Homo sapiens: one gene and its partners. The protein of the gene in region 2 interacts with the protein of the main gene of each other region in a pairwise test. Each region holds a gene or a part of one and is shown on either strand. Other genes may lie near its edges.

Region 1 (3,881 bases), on a different chromosome or scaffold from region 2:
CGGGTGGATCACCTGAGGTCAGGGGTTCGAGACCAGCTTGACCAACAAGGTGAAACCTCGTCTCTACTAAAAAATACAAAAATTAGCCAGTTGTGATGGCGGGCGTCTGTAGTCCCAGCTACTCGGAAGGCTGATACAGGAGAATTGCTTGAACCCGGGAGGCAGAAGTTGCAGTGAGCCAAGATCGCGCCACTGCACTCCAGCCTGGGTGACAGAGCGAGACCCCATCTCAAAAAAAAAAAAAATAGTGCTGGTGAATCAGTCCCCGTGGGAACTGGTTACAGTGAAAGGTCTGACTCCACTACAGTGCAGAGTAGGTGGGACATCCTGCATTGCAAACAAGCTCCTGCAGGACCCAAACAGCTCCTGTGAATAGCAAGGTCTTAGCGCACAGGTGTCAACATTGGGCCTGGGAGGCTTTAAAAATGCTGAAATCAGAGTGGGCCTCACAGCAGCTGATTCAGTCACCCTGGGGTGTGGCCCGGGCTGAGGAGGTTTTGAAAGCTCTCCAGGCGATGGTGTTGGAAGGGGCGGAAAGCTGCCTTCGAGCCTCAGCCTGGCAAGCAGCACCTGCCAGCCAGACCTTGAGGAAAGGGGAGCAGCTCTGTCCCACGGATTCAGATGTCACTGGAAAGGCAGAACGAGGAGGCACCTGGTCTTGTAGGTTCAGGCCAGCCTTGGAGCTGCCCTCCACCCATCCCTGCCTAATGCAGCCGGAACTTCGTCTGCGGCTGCTTTTCTGAACTCTTGGCGTCCTGTTTCTCCTCCTGCACCCCAAAATTAACGCAGTCCTGCCCGTGGCTGGCATTGTCACCAGGCCTTGCAAACACCTCTGTCGGACTTTGCCCAACCTCCCTGGAAACACACCAGGGGTTTTGGAAGGACTGCAGTGGTAAAGGTTGTGGCGCTCCCTGGGACACTGATTCGGAGTGTGGTTGTGTGCAGCTGAGCGTTTGGCGGTGGGTGAAGCCACGTGGACTGATGACTGTGGACCTACACCTGCAGGGATGGCCGTGGGCCTGCGTGTGTGTGTCAGCGTGGCTGGGAGCAGGCTGGTGGTACTGGCAGCCGCTTCCACGTGGGTGAGGGGAGGGCCTCTGTCTGCAACATCCCTCATCAGTTCCCCCTGGATCCCAGCCCGGGGAGGGGGAGAGGGAAGGGGGGCTCAGCTTCCCAGGACCCTAAGCTGCTCCTGGGAGAAGAGAAGGATCCCAGTATCCGGTCAGAGGCTGCAGGAAGCGCTTGCCTCTCCCTGGCCCAGGGCTGACTCCGCCTCTCTTTTCTGCAGATTTTCCGCCGTGCGGACAAAAATGGTGAGTTTCCCTTCCAGGCCGACGGCCGCCCCACTCCTTCTGTCCTCGTGCTTCATGGGGAAGGGATCAGGGATAGGAGACAAGCGCAACCTTGAACCTAAAGGTTTGGAGTGCAGGGGTCTGAAGTTAGAAGGCCAAATCCTGCTGCTGCTCTGTGCCTTGACCTCCCTGTCTGTAAAACGGGAATCCTAGTAGGGCCTACTTAGTAGGGACAGCTCCACTCAAGGGCTCAGTGAGTCTTGTCTGTGATGCCAAGAACAATGACTGGCCGTGGTAAGGGCTGGGTGTACTTTAGGCCTTTTCCTAGCTGGGCTGGACCAGAGGAGCCCGGGCTGGGGCCCAGAAACCCTCCTTGAAAGGAAGCCGCCAGCCTCACGCTAGGCCCTTCACAAGCCTTGGTGCAGTTCTTCATCGTAGCAACCTGAGCAGTCAGTGCTCTTGCCTCTGTTGACACCATAGCAGCCCAGAGAGGTTAAGCAATTTGCCCCAGGGTTGCCCAGCTGCATGAAGGAAACGGAGGCTCTCCTGAAGACCGGGGCCCTTTTCCCTTTCTCTCTCAGCCTCTTTAAAAATGTGAGCAGCGCCTTGTTGTGGCCACGGAATTCATAGCGCTCCACTTCTCCCGACTCCTTGGAGGGGCTTCACTTGCAGAAGGAGCCCAGGCCTTGAGAGAATAAGCACGTTTAGGCGGCCCAGCTGAGCCTCGGCTGACAAAAAGCACCTTCTTAAAAATACCAGAATCATTATTACAGTTGCAACGCAACTCACCGTGGACTTGAACCAAGACAGATTCCCTCTCTGGGCCTTGGTTTTCCCGTGGGTAAAGTGGGGCAATAACACTTGCCCTGCCTCCTTCCCTGGGTTTTGGGGAAAAGCCAGAGAGGCGGTGTGGGTGACAAATGTTTTTAAAGAGAATCGCGTGCTCCCGGTATGTTCATTCATTGAGAAAATGCACATCAAGTACCAAGCCTGTGGCAGGGGAAGAGCACGCAACAGAGACCCTGTGACCTGCCCCAGGGCCCTTGGTCCCCAACGCCTCTGGCCCCGGTTCCTCTCCTGCACAAGCTGCAGTTGAGGGTGGCAGCTCTGGCCTGGGTCTCCAGCACCCGCCTCATCCCTGGGAGTTCCTGTTGACGGCTCCCACCCAGGGCGGTTGCAGGGTGGAGTTGGAGGCCTTGGGCATGGTGGGAGGGCAGGTGCACAGGCCTGGGCTGGAATCAGTTCCAACGAGTCTCCCACCCTGGCCTCCTGCATCCCTGGGGGGTGACAGTGACCACTCCCAGGCCTCTGGGGAAGAAGGACCATCAGCAGTGATTCCATACGGAGCAGAGGAGGAATAAGAGGGACGTAGGGAGATGAAGTGGCTCTGGAAAAACAGCCGTAGCATCATGGCCTGAAAAGCCTTGGAGATGAGGAGGGGAAATCAGGGGGCTGTCCCTGAGATGGGGTCGCCGGAGCCCTCAGCGTCATTGCCTGTGTGCTGGCCTGGCTCCTCCAGCAGGTTGAGAGGTAGGGATTTGGGTTTGTCCCTTGTCCCGGGCCTGATACCCAGCACACAGTAGGTCCTCGGTAAATGTCTGTAGACTTGGTGGACGTGTTTGTTGGTGAGAGCGTGGCTGTGCGTATCTCGGTGACTCAGCAGCGTGAGGCTGTTGGGAATGCGTGTGTCCAGCGTGGGCCTCTAGCCATGGCTGTGCATCCCGAGTGTGTGTGCAGTTAGTGTGCGTGTGTGGCTTCCTGAGTGTGCAGCTCTGCAGGAGCCACTGCAGTGTATACACTTGGGCAGGTGGTGCCTGGCCCCCTCGGGCACAGATGGGGTTCTGTCCTTGCTGCAGGCTCCCCCCATCAGAGGCCATGTGTCCACCCCCTGAGCACAGCTGTGGGACTCTCAGTTTCCTTACTGCAGCCTCCTCAAAGGCCGAGCCTGTTCCTTCTCCTTGGGGCTTACATCTTACCAGCCACCACTATGTGACCGTTAGGGGCTGTCACCAGGGTGAATGTGGGTGTGAGATGCGGGTTCCAGCAAGAGCTTCCCAGGTCCCCCAGCCTGACTGCCTAGGCTCAAGTCCTGGCTCAGCCGCGTACCGGCTCTGGCCTCAGGCAAGTCACCAAATTCTGCAGTCTCAGTTTCCTTATCTGTAAATGGGAATAATTACAGCACCCACCTCAGAGGGCTGTCTGAGGATAGATAGTTGCTCTCCTGGCTTCGCTCATTGAAGATATCAATAAGTCCCCGCTGCTCTGCCTCAAATGCCTCGGAAATGGGAGTCCGCAGGTGTGGCTTGTCCAGAGGGGTTTGATTCCTCTGTGCTCAGCAGGGAATTCGGTCTGGGGGAGGCTGCCAGCAGTCACTGAACGTCTGTTATGCACCAGGACTTGAATGTGCTTTTTCCTTTAATCTTCATTGTGATCCTCCTGAGACAAGAAGTATCAACCCCCACCCTCCTTCCAGATGACGAAAACAAGGCTCGGAGATGGCACGTGATATTCTTCACATGGTCGGGGGGCAGCGGTGCAGGCAGGTTCTGATTCAACACAGCAGCTTAAAAGCTTGTAGGAGTGGGGATG
Region 2 (5,066 bases):
CAGAATGTTTTATTTCCAGTTGCACCAGTTCAACTTAATATATATTATATACAGTTTGTTTGTGAGACATTGGATTGGTTATTGATAGTGGATACAAAAATGAGCAATATTCTGTTCTTGCCCTCAGGAAGTTTACAGTTTAATAAGGCAGATAAGCAGGATTACTTATAAATCTAATATTAGGCAAATGTAGGTGCCACACAAGAATATTTGTAAAGGCCAGGCACCGTGGCACATGCCTGTAATCCTAGCATTTTGGGATGCCAAGACAGGAGAATCACATGAGCCCAGGAGTTCGAGACCTGTAGTCCCAGCTACTCTAGAGGCTCAAGTAGGAGGATCACCTGAGCCTAGGAGGTGGAGACTGCAATGAGCTGTGATGATGCCACTGCACTACAGCCTAGGCAACAGAATGAGACCTGGTCTCAAAAAAAAAAAAAAGGAAAAAAGAAAAGAAAAACAGTAAAAACAACTTGGAGAATTAAGATGAGGGAATCTGATTGGAAGGAAATAATTAAAAGAGACATGAGGTACCATTTAAGATGGTCACCAAAAGATGCATGCTTGCACGTGGAGATGGGCTGGCAGAAACAGTATTACCAGAGGTATATCTGGGTGAAAACAAAGACTCAGTCTGAACAGTAATACATTGCCTTTTTCCTGGGGTATAAGGTATGTTAAGGGAGGAACCAGGTAAGGAAGCGAGTAAAAGATTGAGCTAGGTCCCTGGATAAGTCCAATCAAGATGACAGCCTTGAATCTCAAGAGGAGGAAATGGAAGGCCCAGAGGAAGGAATGGATTAAATCTTGTTTTCTTCAGTTCAGAGTGTAATGTCACAGATTACACTCAAAGATTCCTATGATAGCAAAACTAGGAGGGTCTAGAATTTTTGCTGCTTCTTGAGTCTTTTAGTGGAAAGAACATCAAACTAGAAATCAGAAGATCCAGGCTGTAGCCCCACAGGCTCCCCTGGTTGCTGGTAACTTTAGGCAAATAACTGTATTCTTCTAGCTCTTAGTTTTTTCAACTCTAAGTCAAGTGGGTTGTAGTAAATCAGTGATTTCCAACTCTGGCTGCCCATTAGGGTCACCCAAGAAGCTTTTTAAAAATTGTAGATGTTTGCCTCTACTCCTGAAATTCTAGTTTAATTGATCTGTCTAGGGCCCAGGCATTGGAATTTAAAAAAATTTTTTAATAAGTTTAAATTTTTCTGTCAGTTTCGGGTTCACAGTATAGGGGAGAAAACATAATTTAGTTTCTTTCCCTTTTAGGTTCTTAGTTGAGACACTCTGCTGAAAACAAAAGTCAGATTAACAAAAGAAAAACAAGCAGAAGTTTATTAACACATGCTGTACTCATCACACAGGAAAGGCCTCAGTTCAAAAGCATTTCTATCTCAAGGCAGTGGCTTATGGCCTTACTGAATAGTATTTCAACCAAGGGCCATAAATCCTATACAGTGACAAGACGAAGGAAAAGTTCCAGTCTTTAAAAGGTGGGAAAATGTGGGAAGATAGTAAAATCTGTTCTCAGATTCCTCTGGTGCCTGCTGATGCCTTCTCTGGGCTCAGAAGCAAGTGCTGTTCTAGGAAGGAAGGATTTATGTGCTGCCATCAGGCAATTGGAGGCTATGGCAGAGTCTTCCCCTGCATTTTCAGTATCTTTAACTTAACATCCTCAATTATTTTGGGGAGAAATATTTTTGTTTCCTTCAACAGCAAAACTGAGTGGAAAGTACATAGATTTTCTATGTACTCCCTGCCCCAACACATGCATAGCCTTCCTCATAATCAACATCCTGCCCCAGTGTGGTACATTTATTACAATTGATGAACTTACGTTGACAAACCGTTGTCACCCAAAGGTCCTAGTTTACATTAGGGTTCACTCTTGATGTTGTACGTCCTATGGGTTTGGACAAATGTATAATGACATGTATCCACCATTGTAGTATCATCCCTCATCCCTGCCTATTCATCCCTCATTGGGTTTGCTTGTTTGTTTGTTTGTTTTTTAAAGCTCTCAGTTGATTCTCATTTGCAGCCTGGGTTGAGAATCACTGACCAGTTGATTTCTAAAATCCCTTTCAGCTTTAATGATTTGTCATCCTAAAATATTTTGGTTTTTAGCCTGCCCTAGGGATTAATACTGATTTGGATGACTGCTTTGAGAAATATAGACACTGGCCATGAGCTACAACCTTTAAAACAGTGGTTTTTAGACATTTTTCCATTTCGGCACACCTGAGGCTACTATATATAACACCTGGAAACAGTGAGTCAGCTCAGTGGTGATTCAGTTGGGGGTTAGGACTGTATCAAAATCTCTCAAGGGGATATGGATATAGTTTGGAAAAATTCCTCAGGTGTTTCTACTGGTTCCAAGAGGGAAGAATGGAGCCCTGTGGGGAATGGTGGTTAACATTACTGAAGAATTTGAAACAAATAAAAATGCAGCCACAATCAGGATCATTGGTAGTAAAATGAGTATGCATGAAAATCACAAGAAGCTCACTAAAAATTCAGGGTTTTGTGCCCAATTCCCACAGATTCTGGTTCTATAGGTCTGAGACGTAGGAATCTATATTGTTAAAAACACTCTGAGAAAGTCGACATCCTGCAGGTGCTAAAGGGTCCACATTTTAAGAAATCTGAATTCTCAAGTATTCAGTTGTATGACACAACATTCTAGAAACTTAGTAGCAAATATTTCTTGGCATATTTCTTGGGACCTTAAAAGCCAGGCTAAGAACCAGAAAATGCTGTGTAATGTCTGCTTTCTCATGAGAGTCTGTTTTTGTATTGTTATTCATACTTTATAAGAAGAGTCACTGAACCAGTTAGGGGGGTTGTGTGGGTTTCTTTTTTTCTTTTTTCTTTTATGTTTTTTTTAAGCTATGATGAGGTGTTAGAATTGGAGCCTTAGTTTTTACATTATCAGTTGTCTTATATCAGACTCACAACTTTCTCACCCTGACCAACAGTTCCTGTTACCAAACCTCATGAGTCATGGCTTCTGTTTCACTGTCACAGATGCTGTAAAATGATAGTCAAATATTTTAAAGCTAATGGTGGCAAGTTTTATTCTGAATAATACATAGGCATATATTACAGACTAAATTAGATAATTTTCTCTTTTTTTCCTGTTATGTTCATTTTCATTATAGGTTCAATATGGAATTTTTCCAGATAACTTTACATTCAATTTACTGATGGATTCTTTCATAAAGAAAGAAAATTACAAAGGTAAGAAACTAACCCCAGATTCAGTGTTTATAGGGCTTCCAGCTCCCAAAGGGAGGTGTACAAATGTAGGAACTTCCCCTTTTTTATTTCTTAATAACATCTCTTCATTACTCGTTTAGTCAGAAAAGTTTTGATGATTATCTTTTATGCAAAATTTTTAAAAACATTATTTTTATTTTAAGATAGAAAATATCAAAGTACATAAATGATTATGGAGGAAAAGTAAGTTAATTATACAGGCCAATCTAATTTCACTTCCCAAACTGACTGAAATGCAGAATATAAATAAAGGATAAAGTAAATTTATTTTTCAAGTATAATTTTGGATTCAGTAATGAACAGTTGGCAGAAATGAGATTTTTTTTTTCAACTGAATTTTTAGCCTATGCTCTTTTAAAATATTACTGGCTTGTTTGTTTGTGTAAAAGAAAATCCCTTCCAGGTTCTTATTTTTCTACTGACTTATTAGATGACTACCTGGTCTGCCTATCTCAGTTTCCCCATTTGCAAAAAGAACATAGAAATCCATGCGTGTGGCCTCATTCAGAACCATGACATGTGCAAAACCAGCTGGGTAGGAACAGCTGCAAATCAGTGCTATTTTATAGTTATGAATATATGTAAAAATTGGTTAAAAAAATAATTCAGTAAGTAAAAAACATTTGTTGTGCTTGTGATATGAACAGGCACTATATTTTAAGCCATTGTTAATATTCTCTGCTTTACCACCAAGTAACTACAGAAAGGAAATTGTTTGACTTGATTTTCTTGGCCTCCATCTATGTTGTAGAATATCAAGGGAAAATAAAAATTGCTTAAAGCCTGCTCTCCAGGCTTTAATGACCAGCATTAATGTGCAAACAAATATTTTATGTTACGTGTTATACTCAGGGGCTTATAATTTATGAACGAGCATTTCCCATTCCCTTCCAACAAGTATTTTAAACTGAGCCTTATTGTCCTTTTTATAGTCATTATTTTGCTGTCTTTGAAATAACACCTGAGATTTAGGGTTTCCTTTAGCATTTTGTCCTCTTCTGCCTTAACAGTGAGAAGGTACCAGAGCAGAGAATAGGGCAGTCAGACCAGCCTGTCTGCTCTGCCTGTCAGGGTGACCTTGAGAATATATGTGTCTCCTTTATGCCTTAGCTGTTCTAGCTGGTAGACATGATGCCTTAAATTTGCATCACAGTTTGAGCCATTTTCTGGTTGAACTGTCCAAAATTCTCTTGAAGTAGGTGAAGCAAATAGTATTTTATCATTATGACGATGATACTGGGAGCCAAGAGAAATGAGTGGTTTATTTAATGTCCTTCAGGACGTTGGTGCAGTAGCACCTGATTTAGTTCGTTCTGGTATGTAAAATAGAAGCTAAAGGCTGAGGAAAAACCTTGTTTGTGGAAGAACTAGGGCCAGAGCCTAAGCCCGCATATTTTACTTCTTAATTCTGCATTTTTTTAAACCATGCCCCACGTTTTAAGAGTGTTTATAGTTAAATAGAGATTTAGTAATATTACCTACAACTAATTTCCTCTCTTTTTTACTTTCATCTTCTGCTAGATGCTTTATCTGTGGTTTTTGAGGTCATGATGCAAGAAGCCTTTGAAGTGCCTTCCACCCAACTTCTCTCCCTCTATGTTTTATTTCATTGCCTGGCAAAGAAGACAGACTTCAGTGTAAGTGATCTTCCCTAAAGCAGTATTAAGAACTTTAGAAAAGGCAAGCAGGGGCTTGCTCTCAAAAGCTGGAAAAAGGTGTCTGCAGCTCTGTGGCCAGGCACAACCAGGAATGTGTGTTTATTGTATACATTTTGGTTACTG
Region 3 (4,396 bases), on a different chromosome or scaffold from region 2:
TCCGTCTCAAAAAAAAAAAAAAAAAGATACTGTAGGCAGAGTATGAATACATTAACTTCATACTCCTCTCTTACCAGCTTCTAGCCACTTCTGTATTTTATGGTGCTGCCTATTTATAGTCTTATGACTATTTTTTTAAGTGAGAACCGTGCTATTTGCCTTTAGAAATAATTGTTCACCAAAAAATTCCCCCACAGTTCCTTCACATGGGTAAACAAAGTGCAAAAGGAAACCAAGGTTTGACACTTGGGCTTGAAAAAATTTTAAAAAGTAATATAAAATGGGTTAGATTCTAGGAGTTGAAACCATTTGGGGAAACTACAAGGGCTAATTCCAGGTGTTGGGTAGGAAATGTACAAAGTTAAGCTTGTGTTATCAAAGCAAGAAAGCATTCAAGGACTAATAGGGATACATGAAAGACACAGATGGCTTAATGTGGCTTCCACTGGCCACATTTGGGACAATTTGAGCATCAACAAGAATTATGATGTTAAAGGAGTATATTATATTGAATTAAAAAAAAACCTTAAATCAATAACTTTAAAAACACCTTGATTCCCATAGTGAAGCAAACACTAAAATGGAGGTGTGGAAAGAATGCCAGTTAATAAACATAAAAGGCATGATACTATTGCGGAATCACTTATAACTCCTAATGTAACAACAGATTCAGTGAAGGACTGTATCAAGGAGTTGGGGAACAGGTTATTCTTATGGACTCAAGGTATAATCCACAGATTGCTTACCAATTCCTAAGAGGAAAATGTACTATTAGAATGAAGAGATGTAGCCACCACCTTTACCAAGTGATCAAATTTAGCATTACTAATATAACTGAGTTATGCGTCCCCGTGAGTTGGCAACATCTCTTAGGTAGTATTGCAAAAGTGCTCAAACTGAATCTAATCATGAGGGAAACAAAATCTGACAAATCCAGAATGAGAGAGATTCTACAAGACAACTGGCCTAGGCTCATCACAACATGTAATGATTTAATAATTTAAAAAGGAGGGTGAAGGAGGCTGATCTGGATTAAAAGAGACAATAACTAATTATAGCTTATGAGTTGAAAAAATAAAACTGCTATAGAAATAATTTTGGGGACAATGGGGAAATTTGAATATGAACTGTATAATAAATGATTTTATGGACTTACTAATTTTCTTAGGTTTGATCATGTATTGCGGTTACACAGGAAAATGTTCTTATTCTTAGAACATGCATGCTAACATATTTGGGGGTGAAAAATCTGCAACTTACTTTCAAAGAATTCAGCAAAAATCATTGGGTGGGGCTGTGAATGTGGAGAGAAGAGACGGAGAGAAATCAAACCTGGCAAAATGTTAACAATGAGCTGAAGGACGGCTAAACGAAAGCTCATTGTACTATTTTTAAAACTTTTCTGTAGCTATAAGCCGTTTTTTCTGAGGAAGTCGAGGAGGGCGAATATCTTTCTGGAAAGGCCAGAGCAAATGCACGCAAGAGCTGAGAAAAGATTGGAAAACGCCTCTCAAAATAACAGTCCCGCCCTTCCCGGGACTCTTCCCTATAGGCTGTTCAAGTCACGTGGCGACTGTGGCCCCGCCCACAGCTCCCAGAGGCCTGCGCGTGCGGTCTGCAGTTCGGCCGCTTCCTCTTGGCGGGTGGGCTGCAGCTATGGAGGGCGAGCCTCCACCTGTGGAGGAGCGGCGGCGGCTGCAGGAGGAGCTGAACGAGTTCGTGGAGAGCGGCTGCCGGACGTTGGAGGAGGTGACCGCGTCCCTGGGCTGGGACCTAGATAGTCTGGATCCCGGGGAAGAGGAGGCGGCGGAGGTGAGGAGCGCGGCCGCGGGGCCCTTTCGGGGACTATCGGCCCGGGGTCTTCTCTGGAAGAAGGGAGATCCGCACTGGCAGCCGCGGAGGGAAGGGCGAGGAGTCCTCGTCCGTGTGCAGAGCCGCGATGGGCGCCTGGGACCCGAGGGGCGCCGGGGGCCCTGGAGCAACCCTGACGTCCCTGGGTTCCGGGCTGGGGCGCGCGAGGAACTCCCGAAGGCTCCACATCGACCTCCAGTGCGGCGCTCCTCCCGCGCAACTTCGAGTTTAAAGAAAACCGGGGGCCGGGCGCGGTGGCGCACGCCTGTAATCCTAGCACTTTGAGAGGCCAAGGCGGGAGGATCCCTTGAGCCCAGGAGTTCCAGACTAGCCTGGGCAACATGGTGAAACCTCTTCTCTACCAAAAGTACAAAAATTAGCCGGGTGTGGTGGTGTGAGCCTGTGGCCCCAGCTATTTGGGAGGCTGGGGTGGAAGGATAGCTTGAGCCCAGGAGGTCGAGGCTGCAGTGAGCCGAGATCGCTCCACTGCATTCCAGCCTGGGCGACAGAGCAAGACCCTGTCTCAAAAAACAAACAAACAAAATCCAGGAAGGTGTGTTGAGTGAGGAGGGAATGGCAGATTTGGTATTTATTTAGAAAATAAGTGAACGTGTCTCAGAGCGCTGCAGAGGGATTGGCGGTTTGCATTGTCATCTGTCATACGGATTCCGCAGTTGCACCAGATTCGGTGTCAGGAGAGCTGGGAGTTTGCCAGTTCGCCTTTCTGTGCCTTAAAATTGGACACTTCTGACTGGGACAGCACCAATTCTAGGATTATTAAAGGTTGTCACCAAGAGGTGGTAACTGGCAACTCCTGTGGACATTAGAATTGCTTTTTTAAAAATGTAGGCAAGTGTATTTAGAGTGAACATTCGTGATTTTTGTTTTTTTGTGGGGTATTTTCGGTGGAATGAGAGGAAGGGAAGTGCTCCAATGTGGGGTAATTCATTATCTTTACTATTACTTCTGGGTTTACCATGCTGTGATAATTTCTCCTGGGTTTAAGTTACATGACTGATTCCTCAGAGGCATTTAAAATATATTTGATTTCTGTATATACCATTCATTGTTTATTGTATTAAAAGCACAGAGGAAATTAAAAAATCTTTAATATTCATTTAGAGGGGTATTTGAAGCTGGGAATTCCACTGAGTGGGGCTTACCAGACCCTTCCATACATTGTTTACTCAGCATTGCGGTAACATTGGATTCCTTGTATTAACGTTTAAATAGCACTTTGTTTGCCACTTACATTACTTCATTTAATACTCAAAATAACCCTATGAGGTAGGTATCTTTGGCCACATTTTATAGACGAGGAAAGGAACACAGAAGTGATAATTTGTCGAAGGATACACTGCTAGTAAATGGCAGTTAGGATTTCCGCCGGTGTTTTAGTACTGAAATTTAGTGAACAACAGTCCTAGTTGTCATCTGTTCCTAGTTGTCACCTAGTTCCTAGTCCTCACAGAGCTAGTCCTAGTTGTCACCTAGTTCCTAGTCCTAGTTGTCACCTAGTTCCTAGTCCTCACAGAGCTTATTGTCTGGTGGTGATGAGGGGTAATACGGATAACTGAACCATTATATTATCATGGGTCTGTGATGGGTGGGGTTGGAATTGCTATAGTACAGTTTATTGTAGGCGGTGGTGGACAAAGTGGTGGTCAGCAAAGGCTTCCTGGACAAAGTGAATTCTAAGCTGATAAATAAAAGTGAGTTGAATTGGCTAGGGGGTTGGCGGGTGCGGGGAAGAAGCATCAACAGCATGTGTAGAAGTTCAGAGACAGGGAGTGACCAGATCGGGAAGCCTCAAGTAGTTAAGGATAGCTAGAGCATAGAGTGTAGAGTTAGAGTAGAATGGTGATGGTGGGTAGAGGTCAGATCTTAAAGGTCCTTGTCAGCCATATTAGAAAGTCTAGATTTTTTTTTTTTTTTTTAATGAAGGCAGTGGGGAGGTATGGAATTATTTTAAGCCAGGGCATATTATAATCACATTTACCTTTTAATAAAATAATAGCATACATTTATTGAATGCTTGCTATGTACCAGGCCCTATTTGAATTCCTTTATGTGTATAAACTTTGGTATACTTTTTTAAATCTTCACAATCACTTTGTGAGAGAGGTCCTGCTATTATTTTTATTTTATATAATAGAAAATGAGGCAAAGAGAGATTAAGTACCTCACCCAGTTTCATGCAGCCAGTAAGTGGCAGAGATGGAATTCAAACCAGCTACAGGATGGAAACTGAAGGGGAGGGCAGCAAGACTGGAAGCAGAGAGAGAGAGCAAGAGTGAGAGAGAGCGAGCGAGCGTAGTCAGGAGATGGTGTTGTATTCCAGGAGAGAGTTGATGATACCCTGAGTTGGGGAAGTGGCAGTGGGGATGGAGGATGTTGAGGGATTTTCAGAAATATTTAGGAGTTAAATTGGCAGGACTAGGTGATTGATTGGACGTGGGTGATGAGGGAGAAGTAGTTTCTTGCTTGAGCAAGGGGGACCTTTCACTGAAATAGAAAAGTACAAAAGGAATAGATTTGAGGGTTG
Region 4 (3,881 bases), on a different chromosome or scaffold from region 2:
AATATGTCACCTCTTCATACTCATATTGGTGAAGGGTCCTAGCTTCAAAATTAATAGATTCCTAAAGAGGGGAAATGAAACATCCGCATTTACACACACACACACACACACACACACAGAGTTCCTCTTGTCGGTAAGTTTTGTTTTTTTTAAATCTCTACTAGATAAAATTTGTTATCTAATTGTGAGTTTTACACAAAGAAAAACTGTCACAGAAAAGAAAGACAGTGTCACATTTTTCAAAAGAAAAAGAAGAAAAGAAAGTGCCATGTTTTTCAAATACAAATGTTCTGGATTGATTTTAGGATCTTTAGTGAAAAACAAAGTATTTCATAATAAGTAAAATAAAAATCTATGTAGGTAAATTTGTTTCTCTAATTTAAGAATTTGAATTTCTGAGTATTTATGATAAGTGTTGAAATAACTTCTTATATGTGACAGTGAATACTGGCAGAGCAAATGCCAAATCAATGCCAAATCTGTAGGATCATTTGATTGTAGGAACAGAATTCTACTCAAACCGAAAGCAGGCATTTGCTGGAGTTACAGAAAGGCCTCATGGAACACCGAGAAGGTGGTGCCATTCGACTCTTAAAGAAGCTGCAACAGGCACAAGAGAGTCAGCTGCAGCTCTTCTTCTTGAGTCTATATCTGTCCTGGGTCCATTCCTTTTTGTGGTTGCTTCATTCCTTTCTCTCTCTGAAGACTGGTTTTTCTGGTCTACCAGGGCTATGCCACATTGACTTTATGTAGTGTCTCCATTCTGGCCTCCTGAATTTACAGGAGAGTTCCTCTGTACAAACTCAAAGTCCTGGAGAGAACAGAAAACAGCTTCCTTTTGGCTCAGGGGTCCAACTGCAGTCTACTCTGCTGCTATGAGGATAGTGGGTTCACCACCTTTGTTGTTCTCTCAGCTAGGGCAGTGGGAAATGACTCTATGAAAGGAATATACATGGGCAGGCAAATGTACTAATCCTCATCAGTACTGTAATTTTAAGCAACTTTAAAAAATTCTTTTAAGTTATTTGAAAATAAGATCAAAGAAGGCTGAATTACATAAATGAAGATTTGTTAACAATTAATTCAAACCAATATAACACATGCTATAACATGGTTGAGTGTGATTGAGTCTTGATTTATTAGGGGCAATAATCAAAACATTTAACAATCATTATAGTACAGAACTTACCAATCAAATCAGATGCTCAGCCGGAGTGGATGTTGGCCACCCAGCTATTATTATCCCTGGCTCAATTGGTCTTCAGCTGTGTTAACTTGCAAACATTAATTAACTATCTAAGCCCCTCATTTTCCTCAAGTGTAAATAGACACAATAATATTACCTATTCCATAGGTGTGGGGTGAATAGTAAATGTAATAATTTGTCCAAAACACTTAGTATAGTGCCTGGTCCATGGTAAATACTAAATAAATGTTATCTGACTTATTATTAAAATTTTATCTTCTCAGCTTAACCTTCAGAACAGTAATATATTGGGGTCTAGATAAATCTTGCCTATATGAAAATAATTTAATACTACATGCAGATATATGCTGTGTATATTATGCCTTCTGTTAGAGGAATTGCAGAAACAAAAATTTCAATTAATAATAAGATGAATTATTTCTCCCAATTGTAGAATCTTTTGACAATTTTATCATGCATTACAGATGTAAGAACTCTTGATTGGGACTTGATAGTCTAACTTTATAATAATTTAAGAACATTCCTCTTAGAGAATTTCTATGGCCATAATACTGAACACATGAATTTTAATTAGCTGTCCTCTTTAGCCCTAAAAAAAAAATTACTGTAATTTAACACTTAAGTGTTGTTCTTCCCAGGTACAGTAATCTTTTTTTTTTTTTTTTTTTTTTTTTGCATAGAGGGTAATCTTTTCTCTTTCCAAATGGCAGAACTGTTAGTTTTCTGACTGTCCGGTGAAATTCTAAGTCCACTTACTTCCCAATAGCATGCAATTAGCAAAGGTCCTCCTTGCAAAGGCACAGAACACACCTAAACATCTTGCAGATGCTGTTTGGACACTCTTCCCCTGCTTTTGGTCTCTTTGTAAAGCAGCTCATCTGGATACAGGATCTCTTTTCCCCATTGCCCATTCTAATATATGTTACCGTTATTACTTATAGAATAATAGTAGAAGAGACAAATATGGTACCTACCCATTACCAACAACACCTCCAATACCAGTAACATTTTTTAAAAAGGGCAACACTTTCCTAATATTCAATCGCTCTTTGATTTAAAATCCTGGTTGAATACTTACTATATGCAGAGCATTATTCTATTAGTAGATGCTGTGATGAACTGAGATTTAAAAATTGTTAAAATTAGCATAAAATTGAAATGTAAATTTAATGTGATATGTGCCCTAGGAGAAGTGTGAATAAAGTCGTTCACAGAAGAGAGAAATAACATGAGGTTCATTTACGTCTTTTGTGCATCTATAGGAGAAGGAGAAGGAAGAGTTGGTATTATCCTGACTTTAGCCATGAATATCATGAGTACATTGCAGTGGGCTGTAAACTCCAGCATAGATGTGGATAGCTTGGTAAGTCTTATCATCTTTTTAACTTTTATGAAAAAAATTCAGACAAGTAACAAAGTATGAGTAATAGCATGAGGAAGAACTATATACCGTATATTGAGCTTAAGAAATAAAACATTACAGATAAATTGAGGGTCACTGTGTATCTGTCATTAAATCCTTATCTCTTCTTTCCTTCTCATAGATAGCCACTATGAAGATCTAATACTGCAGTGAGCATTCTTTCACCTGTTTCCTTATTCAGGATTTTCTAGGAGAAATACCTAGGGGTTGTATTGCTGGGTCATAGGATTCACCCATGCTTAACTGAGTGGTGCCAAATTGTCCTCAAGTCTGTTGTACTGATATATATCCCCATCAAGAGAGTACAAGAATTCTCATAGCTATGTATCTTCAACAACACTTGGTGTCTGGTAGATGTGAAGTGATTACTAAAAATATAGGGAAGCTGCATACATAATTATTGGCTTTTGCTGTTCTCTTACATTAATTTCTTATTCATGTTGATTACTCATTTGTCACCTAGTTTTTTCTTCCTTAATTAAATTGTAGGAATTTATGAATTATGGATTGATCATCAGCTCTATACATTTCAAACATAATCCCTCAGTCAGTGGCTTGGCTTATAGAGTCTTTTGATGAAAAGAAGCTTTTAAGTTTAATAAAGTTCAATTTATTGTCTTTTCCTTTATGTTTTGTGCTTTTGGTATCTTGATTAAGAACTCCTTCCTTATATTGGGTTCTCAAATTTAGCAGCATAACATTTTCATACTATTATTTAAATTTTTTTCACATTATTTAGTGATAGCACCTTTCTTATTCCTAAAGTGTTTATCATTGCCTTCTGTCTTTCTGCTTGATAAATATTGCCACACATTTGTATACTTTATTAGTGTGTACAAAGACCACATTTTAGTTGTGTTATTTCTCTTGTTTTGGTTTTCTAGAATGCAGAGCCATTAATATTATAGTAATGCTTATGTGCTAATACCATATCAGGGGCACAAATCCCATTGCAGCGGGACTGAGAAATTAAAGGAAATGATGCACATTTACTCATTTTTGTTTAAAAAATCAAATGCATATTTTTCAATCAGACTATATGGTTGGTCTGGATAGCTTCATCATTGAATTTTTAAAGTATTTTTGTACTACTGTATTTAAAATTATTCATTCACCACTGCTTTTGTAGATGGTTTAGAAACCCAAGTTAGGAATGACTGTGCAACACTATTATTATACTCTTTTTAAAATTATACTTTTTGCTTAAGTTTCTTTCCTTGTTCTCTGAGACAGTGTTCATGTTCCCAAACC

What was found.
Region 1: the proteins of MRPS27 (region 2) and NECAB2 interact in binary tests that used the Homo sapiens proteins (3 or more experiments, as listed by UniProt).
Region 3: the proteins of MRPS27 (region 2) and SNRNP48 interact in a two-hybrid assay, tested with the Homo sapiens proteins (one large-scale study listed by BioGRID).
Region 4: the proteins of MRPS27 (region 2) and CFTR interact in binary tests that used the Homo sapiens proteins (3 or more experiments, as listed by UniProt).

Annotation. Positions count from the first base shown.
Region 1 is NC_000016.10:83,970,863-83,974,743, forward strand, and holds part of NECAB2 (N-terminal EF-hand calcium-binding protein 2), read left to right. Parts: intron 1-1,288; coding exon 1,289-1,313; intron 1,314-3,881. UniProt on the Homo sapiens protein: May act as a signaling scaffold protein that senses intracellular calcium.
Region 2 is NC_000005.10:72,232,299-72,237,364, reverse strand, and holds part of MRPS27 (small ribosomal subunit protein mS27), read left to right. Parts: intron 1-3,167; coding exon 3,168-3,246; intron 3,247-4,806; coding exon 4,807-4,922; intron 4,923-5,066. UniProt on the Homo sapiens protein: RNA-binding component of the mitochondrial small ribosomal subunit (mt-SSU) that plays a role in mitochondrial protein synthesis. Stimulates mitochondrial mRNA translation of subunit components of the mitochondrial electron transport chain.
Region 3 is NC_000006.12:7,588,602-7,592,997, forward strand, and holds the start of SNRNP48 (U11/U12 small nuclear ribonucleoprotein 48 kDa protein), read left to right. Parts: upstream 1-1,596; 5' UTR 1,597-1,656; coding exon 1,657-1,812; intron 1,813-4,396. UniProt on the Homo sapiens protein: Likely involved in U12-type 5' splice site recognition.
Region 4 is NC_000007.14:117,612,144-117,616,024, forward strand, and holds part of CFTR (cystic fibrosis transmembrane conductance regulator), read left to right. Parts: intron 1-2,469; coding exon 2,470-2,570; intron 2,571-3,881. UniProt on the Homo sapiens protein: Epithelial ion channel that plays an important role in the regulation of epithelial ion and water transport and fluid homeostasis. Mediates the transport of chloride ions across the cell membrane.